Homo sapiens: one gene and its partner. The protein of the gene in region 1 interacts with the protein of each later gene in a biochemical or structural test. Each region holds a gene or a part of one and is shown on either strand. Other genes may lie near its edges. The genes, in order: SH2B3 and MET.

What was found.
Region 2: the proteins of SH2B3 (region 1) and MET form a complex in vitro, tested with the Homo sapiens proteins (one large-scale study listed by BioGRID and IntAct).

The regions. Positions count from the first base shown.
Region 1 is NC_000012.12:111,412,335-111,416,151, reverse strand, and holds part of SH2B3 (SH2B adapter protein 3), read right to left. Parts: intron 1-3,817. UniProt on the Homo sapiens protein: Links T-cell receptor activation signal to phospholipase C-gamma-1, GRB2 and phosphatidylinositol 3-kinase.
Region 2 is NC_000007.14:116,675,160-116,678,976, reverse strand, and holds part of MET (hepatocyte growth factor receptor isoform b preproprotein), read right to left. Parts: intron 1-3,817. UniProt on the Homo sapiens protein: Receptor tyrosine kinase that transduces signals from the extracellular matrix into the cytoplasm by binding to hepatocyte growth factor/HGF ligand. Regulates many physiological processes including proliferation, scattering, morphogenesis and survival.

The DNA of each region.
Region 1 (3,817 bases):
GCTAACACGGTGAAACCCCATCTCTAGTAAAAATACAAAAAAATTAGCGGGGGGTGGTGGCAGGCACCTGTAGTCCCAGCTACTGGGGAGGCTGAGGCAGGAGAATGGCATGAACCCGGGAGGCGGAGCTTGCAGTGAGCCGAGATCACGCCACTGGACTCCAGCCTGGGCAACAGAGCGAGACTCCGTCTCTAAATAAATAAATAAATAAATAAATACATAAATAAATGGGCCGGGGGCAGCTGCTCATACCTGTAATCCCAGCACTCTGGGAGGCTTAGGTGGGTGGATCACCTGAGGTCAGGAATTCGAAACCAGCCTGGCCAACATGGTGAAACCTCGCCTCTACTAAAAATACAAAAATTAGCTGGGTGTGGTGGTGTGTGCCTGTAATGCCAGCTACTCGGGAGGGTGAGGCAGGAGAATCACTTGAACCTGGGAGGCAGAGGTTGCAACGAGCTGAGATCATGCCACTGCATTCCAGCCTGGGTGACAGAGCGAGACTCTGTCCTGGAAAAAAAAAAAAAAAAAATCACACACACAAAAACAAAAACAAAAATAAATATAAAACAAAAAATAAAAAGGAATAAATTAACAAAAGTCACGGGGGTCCAGAGGGATTTCCTGCACTGACAGGGGACCCTCAGGACTAGCAGACCTTTGCCTGCCCATCTCAACTGGGGCATCCTTCTCCTCCCATGGCCAGAGGGCCTTTCCTTAGGCACAACATCACCAGAATGGCACTGAGACCCCCCACCCCTCTGCTGTCCACGGTGCAGAACAGTTGGGACCTCTGTGGGCACCATCCTTCCTTCCTCCTGACCCTCGCTGGGCCTGGGCCCCTGCTGGAGACCACATATCCATGTCGCTCTTCAAGATGGAGAAGAAATGCTCTCCCTACTCAGGCACAAAACTGGGCCCCAGATCCCTGATATCAGCACACCCTGAATGAACAGCAGTGCCACTCCAGTGACTCCCTCCCTGGGCAGGGGTAGTGGCTGCACAACACAAGCTACAGAGCCACAGGGGCCTGGGTACATTTGCTGCCTCCAATCACGCCCTCCTTCATCCTCTCTTCAGGTGTTACTGAGGGCCTACTGTGTGCCAGACACCAGGCTAGGCCCTGAGATACCACGGTGAACAGCACAGACGAACACTGCTCTCCCAGGGCTCACATTACAAAGGGGGACACGTATTGGCTGTGTGGCTCCTGATGCCTGACTCAACCTCTCTGAACCTGGATTTCCTCATCTGCCAACCAGGTGGCAGCATGGCATCCACCTTGTAAGGAACCCATGAAAGGGAATGCAAGGTGGAGATGCGAACCTACAAATGGGGTTCTCTCTGCCACACACCCCTCCACAGGCACCGTCTCTGCATGTGGCCATGTCCCGCTGGGCATGTCTGCAGGGCAGTGGCAACAAAGGGTGCCCCTGTCACATGAGGCCATGGTGGAACCCCCACAGCCGATCTCCACAAGAAACCCCAAAAAGCACAAGTAGGTGCCTCTGCCCTCGATGGAAGGGGGCCATGCAGAGTCGACAATGTTTTTTTTTTTTTTTGAGACAGGGTCTTGTTCTGTCACCCAGGCTGGAGTGCAGTGGCATAATCATGGCTCACCGCAGCCTAGACCTCCCAGGCTCAAGCTATCCTCATCTTGGCCTCCCAAAGTGCTAAGACTACAGGCACACACCACGACACCTGGTTAATTTTTGTATTTTTTGTAGAGATGGGGTCTCACTATGTTGCCTAGGCTGGTCTCAAACTCCTGGGCTCAAGCAGCCCTCCCACCTTGGCCTCCCAAAGTGCTGGGATTACAGGCATGAGCCACCGTGCCCTGCTACAGTCGACAGTTTTGTACATCACAGGGTCCTTGGGACCCGCACACAGTAGGTACTTTGCACACAGTAAGTAGTCACTAAAAGCTGTCAGGCAGATGGGAAGGGAGAGGGAGGGGCCACATCTGCCCTTGGCCACCATGTTCTTCCTGTCCCTGAAGGGGGGAGGGTCTAACCCCTGCATAAGGGCACCTGTTCTTGGTCAATCCTACTGTTCCCCACACCCAGCCTTGACACAGGTGAGACAGGCGCTGCCCTCGTGGCTTGGAGGATGCCCAGAGAGCTGTGATTCCAGACCCAGGCTCCTGCCCCACCTACACGATCTGCCGCTAGTCACGCCAGCTGCCTGTGGGTGTTGGCATGAGCCATTCCCTCTGCCCTGTCTGCTTCCAATTGCACATAAGAGAAGCCTCTTCTGAGCTCCCAACTGAACTTGACCTTCAGCACACTGGTCACACATTATCACTTGACAGGATGCTTTTATTAGTGACTATCTCTCCAACAGACTGAGTTCCATGAGTCATTCCCTGCTTCATCTCCAGCTCCTAGCATACAGCAGGAGCTCAATGAATGCCTCTTGAATGAATGAACATATGAATGCAAGAGATCAGTTGGATTTGCAAACTCTTGCTCTCCCGGCAGATGCGTGGCAACCAGCATGAACCAACCTCCCCCGCCCCCTGGGCCGTCCTACCTTCCGCACAGTCCTGTATGTCAGAGTCTTGAAGCCCAACTGCAGGGCCAAACCCTGGCAGGAGCCTTCCTCAAAACAGCTGCGCCCACTCCAGGTCCCTCACTGCCCAGGCAACGGCTGGGAACCCCCCTCATTGGGCCCCTTCCACCAGTCCTCCCATAAGAACAATGGCATTTACTGAGCGTCTGCTACACATCAGACATTTTTCTTTCTCTTTTTAGAGACAGGGTCTCACTCTGTCTTCCAGGCTGGAGTGCAGTGGCACAATCATAGCTCACTGCTGCCTCGAACTCCTGGGCTCAAGAGATCCTCCTGCCTCAGCCTCCAGAGTAGCTGTAACTACAGGCTCATGGCACCATGCCAAGATCATATCAGGCATTTTTCTAACTACTTTTACAAAATATTACCTCTTCCAAGGTTCCTAACAGCCCTAGGAGGTAGGTCCAACGATTACTTCCATTTTACAGATGGGGAAGCTGAAACAGAGCGGCCCCATAGCTAGTGATTATAGAGACCCCCACACAGAAGGGACCCCCAAAATGTCTGATCAGTGCCTAAATGCACACAAGAAGGGCTCACTTCCCAATGAATGCTTATTGGATGAATGAGTGAGTCCCAGAGGAGAGAATATAAAAGTCTCATTCAGCTCCAGCTGGAGTCAGGAGTCGGCAGTAGCTCTGTCCAGGTCCCAAACCCACCAATGATCAGGAAAACTGTCACAGGGCAAAAGGAAGAAAACAAAAATGAGAGGCTGGGCTCAGTGGCTCACACCTATAATCTCAATACCTCGGGAGGCCAAGGCGGGAGGATTGCTTGAGCCCCAGAGTTCGAGACCAAGCTGGGCAACATGATGAAACCCTATGTCTACTATAAATACAAAAAAATTAGCCTGGCATGGTGGCTGGGCCTGTAGTCCCAGCTACTCAGGAGGCTGAGGCGGGAAGACTGCTTGAGCCCAGGAGGTCGAGGCTGCAGTGAGCTGTGATCACACCACTGCACTCCAGCCTGAGTGACAGAAGCAGACCATATCTCTATAAGAAAAAAAGAACTGATGTCTGCAGTGTGCTTGGCATGGGGCTCATAAGTGGCTGCTGCTATTTTCTTACTATCACTGTTAGAAAAGAGCTCCAGCCTCGGAGTCAGGCTCGCCCGCCATGGGAAGCCACAGGGGGGCCTGCCTCATGGGCTGGGCTCGGGGCGTCATGGGGAGCTGGAACAAAAGATCTTCTCAGGGGAGAGGCGGCTGCTCAGGCTGCTCCGGGCAGGAAGTTGCCAGCCCAGAGCA
Region 2 (3,817 bases), on another chromosome or scaffold:
CTAATCAGATTTTTGAGGATGCTGTTTATTGACGCTTAGCAAAAACCAACTTCCTATTTTTTTCTGGAACAAAAAGGCCTTACACAATTTTAGAGATCTCTTGGACATCAAAGAGCTTAGAGGGACATACAGTTTGTGAGTAATGATTTAAGATTTAGTGAATCAAAGACACATGGATTAAATTTCCCTTAAAAGACCCCTAGGTTTAAAATTTAATAGCTAAAATGCTGGTCTAGATACACTCTGGTCCCAATGCTGGTCCCAAGCAAAGCCAAAACCTATTTTTAAAGCTAGGTTGAATTGTCTTATGGACCCAAACCTTGGCTGGGTTTTCCTTTCCCACATGATTAGGCCTCAAAGGAGGCAACCTATCTCTAATAAATTTACCACTTCTCTTTTTCTCTGACTTGCAAAGACCATATTATTTCAAAGGTCTCAGCTTTGAATGTCTTTCTTTACATTTTTAATAAAATATTAAAAATTAGAAATCTTCCACGGTCTTATCAAACAGTTATTCCCCAAGTCATTCTTTTTTAAAAAAAAACATACATTTTCAAATTGGACCTGAGAGTCTAGGTGCTGCCTCAGAATTCCAACTATTAAGGAGTAGGAGACCATTTCAAAACAGGAATAGACCACTGATCTTAATATGTATACTGTATGTGCACTGTTTCATGATATATTATTATATTTGCATTTAAAATAGTAGGAAGAAATACAGTACATAATCTCCCTTTCTAACACAGTGGCCTTCTGGAGGGCTGCTAGCTTGGGCATTTCACTGAGATTTTAGGATTAAAGGAAACAAATTAGTGCACAACCTGTGAGCTTTTATTCCTTTGGAAAAATAGATTTTAACACTGATCTGATTGCTTTTAAAGGGCACTGGAAACCAGGAGGGCAGTGCATGTTTTGAATTTCAATGGCAGGGTAATAACAACGGGTGAAGTTCAGTCATTTCCAGAGACAGAGACAGAGAGAGAGAGAGACAGAGAGAGAGAGAGAGAAAGACAATATTCCAAAGGGGGAGTTTATCCTGAATCAGAGAACTTGGAAATGAAATTGATGCATAAAGCCATGATGGATTCAGGTTTCAGAAAACTACTACTTCAGTTTAAGAATGAAATAACTAGATTACCCTTTAGTTTAGAAACGTACATAGTTTGATGTAAAGTATGTGGGCTGATGAGTTTAGAAAAATAACCACGTGCCAATAGGAACTGACATAAAATATTGGTTTTAAAAAATTTGTTTAGTTAATTTTCTGAGAATTTTAGAAAATAAAATATTTTGTAGAAGCAGTCCTGGGGCTCTCGGGCCATGCATGCTGCTGCAATTGGGACCATCAGGAGCCCAATCTGGCTTGCAGACTTTCTGCCACTGTAAGCTGTATGGTGTTTTAAAGACACTGAGTCAACATTTTAAAATTGGGAGAGTCCTAGCTTCTCTTGAAAATCTGAAAGATACTACCACATGGGCCCATGCCATACACTGAGCCTCACAACAGCTCTAATCACGCCAAGCAGTGACTGCCCCTCTGCTTTTCCTAAGCAGTTTGTCAATCCCTAGTGAAATGGTTAGTTTTCCTCATTTAAGTTACCTGTTTGCAAATCTTGATACAGGATATAAATAGGGGAATAAGGGAAAAGGAAGAAAAGAGGAAGAAAATCCAATGCAGTGACTTAATACTGGAAAGGAAAAGGAAGGAGAGCGAGGGGGAAAGAAAGAAGTGCATAGCAGACAGAAGCTGCACACCATCAGCAACTGCCTCTTGCTGTCTTTAGATTTATACTATGGAAGGGATCAGTGAAAAAAGCCATGGGTATCCTTCTCAACAAATCCCACTGTGACAGGCTCACAGTGTGGAAAATAAGAAGGAAAATTGTCTGAATGGAGCAATATCTCTGATAGAGGATGGAGTATGGGATGGGACCAGGCGGATGCAAAACAAAACAAAACAAAACAAAACAAAAAAACAAAAAAAAAAACAAAACAACACTCTGGGTCTTCTTCTTCCATGTCTCATAAACCAAGAGATGTGGGCCACTCCTGTATCTTCATCTTTAACATGGTAGCTAATGATGGCAGGCACTGTCCAGGTATTTCCCTACAAAAACAGGGGCACTATTCAGGTATCTCCCTCCAAAATCAGGGAGTCTATGGACAGTTGTGCAAGCTGTGAACTGCACAATTTCAGGAAAAACAAGATGAGAATAGCACTCCTGAGAAGTGCTCCTCATATGCGCCTGGCTCACTTCCTTATCTCCTTCAGATTCTAGCCCAAAGCCCACCTTTGAAGACAAGCCTTCCCTGACCTCACTATTGAGTTTTTCAATCACCATCCCACTCTCTCTTATCCTTGACAGTCACTATTCTCTTTTCCATTTTATTCTACCTTGAAGCTATTATCATCACCTGACATACAACACATTTCAGTTATGTATTTCTTTATTGTTTGCCAACTCAATAGAACAGAGTGTCATGAGGTTAGAGGTTTTCATCTGTTTTATACTCTGTGGAAATGCCAGATTTTAGAACTATGCCTCGTAGGTTGTCAAAAAATTGTCCTGAATGAATGACTAAATCCTCATTCACATTCTTGGAGTACAGGAACCTGGCTTTCACGATAACTTGTGATTCTCTAAGCACATTTCATAATTGCTATCCTTAATTATATTAGGAGAGATACATTTTCAAATTCTATTGCCCATTATATAATCGCCTGTGGGCCCTATAGCTACATAATTTATTATAGAAATTAAAATCAATGGGAGTAACCTACATAAACATACTTGCACACATTTATGCAATCACAGAGAGAAATATGTGTACCTGGGTATGTGATTACAAAGTTAACTTTTTTATTTCACTGAGCTCATACCTCCTGCTACAAATGCCACACGTGATTTTTTCTCTCAATTAAGTTTTACAGCTTATAAAAGCACTTTTTTCATTTTGTCCCATGAAAAGCAAAGTAGTCAGATTTTACTGGATGTTTTTATTGAAACAAATCCCAAGCGGAATATACTAACCTGTTTAACACAGCTGAAAAGATATCTGAGAATGGGCTTTCTGATAGAAGGATAGATTACAAAATTATTCACGGCTCTTAATCTGATAACAGGAGCAGAATGCCCCACACATATGAATGAAACCTTTTCTCGGTATGTCTCACTACAAAGAAAAGAAAAAAAGAAAAGAAAAGAAATTAAAAAAAAAAAAGAGAGAGAGAACTGGAGAAAGAGAAGGTGACAAAAACTCCAGGGACTAGATATGTTATATTCATCATTTACCACTATCTTAAGCATCCCTAATGATGCCTCCATGGAAAATGTTTCCAATAGTTGATGGCTGAGGAAAGGTGGTATGGTGCTATTGAAATAGCATGGAGCTAGTCTCAAGCTCAGTTTCCTTGTCTATAACATAAGAATGTTAAGATGTTATCAGACTTGCCTATCTTGTAAGGTCGTTTTGGTATCAGAAAGGTGATGTATGCAGAAACAGCTTGAAAATGTTAAGGTTTTTAAGTTCCAAACTTTGATTTTTAAAAAAAAATTCTATTATTTCATAGCAAATAGGATGATTTTGAAAGCGTTTCTCATGTGATGTCCTCTTAATAATTATGAATTTGTGTTCATTTAATATGTGATATTTGTCTGTGTATCTAGATCATAAACTTCTCAAGGGCAGATTCCATTTCTTTCTTTTAAAGAAAATGCTGTAGTACCTAGCACATATGATACTCTACCTATAGGTCCTAGCTATTTTTGGTCAGGCAAATGTGGATCTAGCAGCAACTCAGTGTCAGTTGAGAACA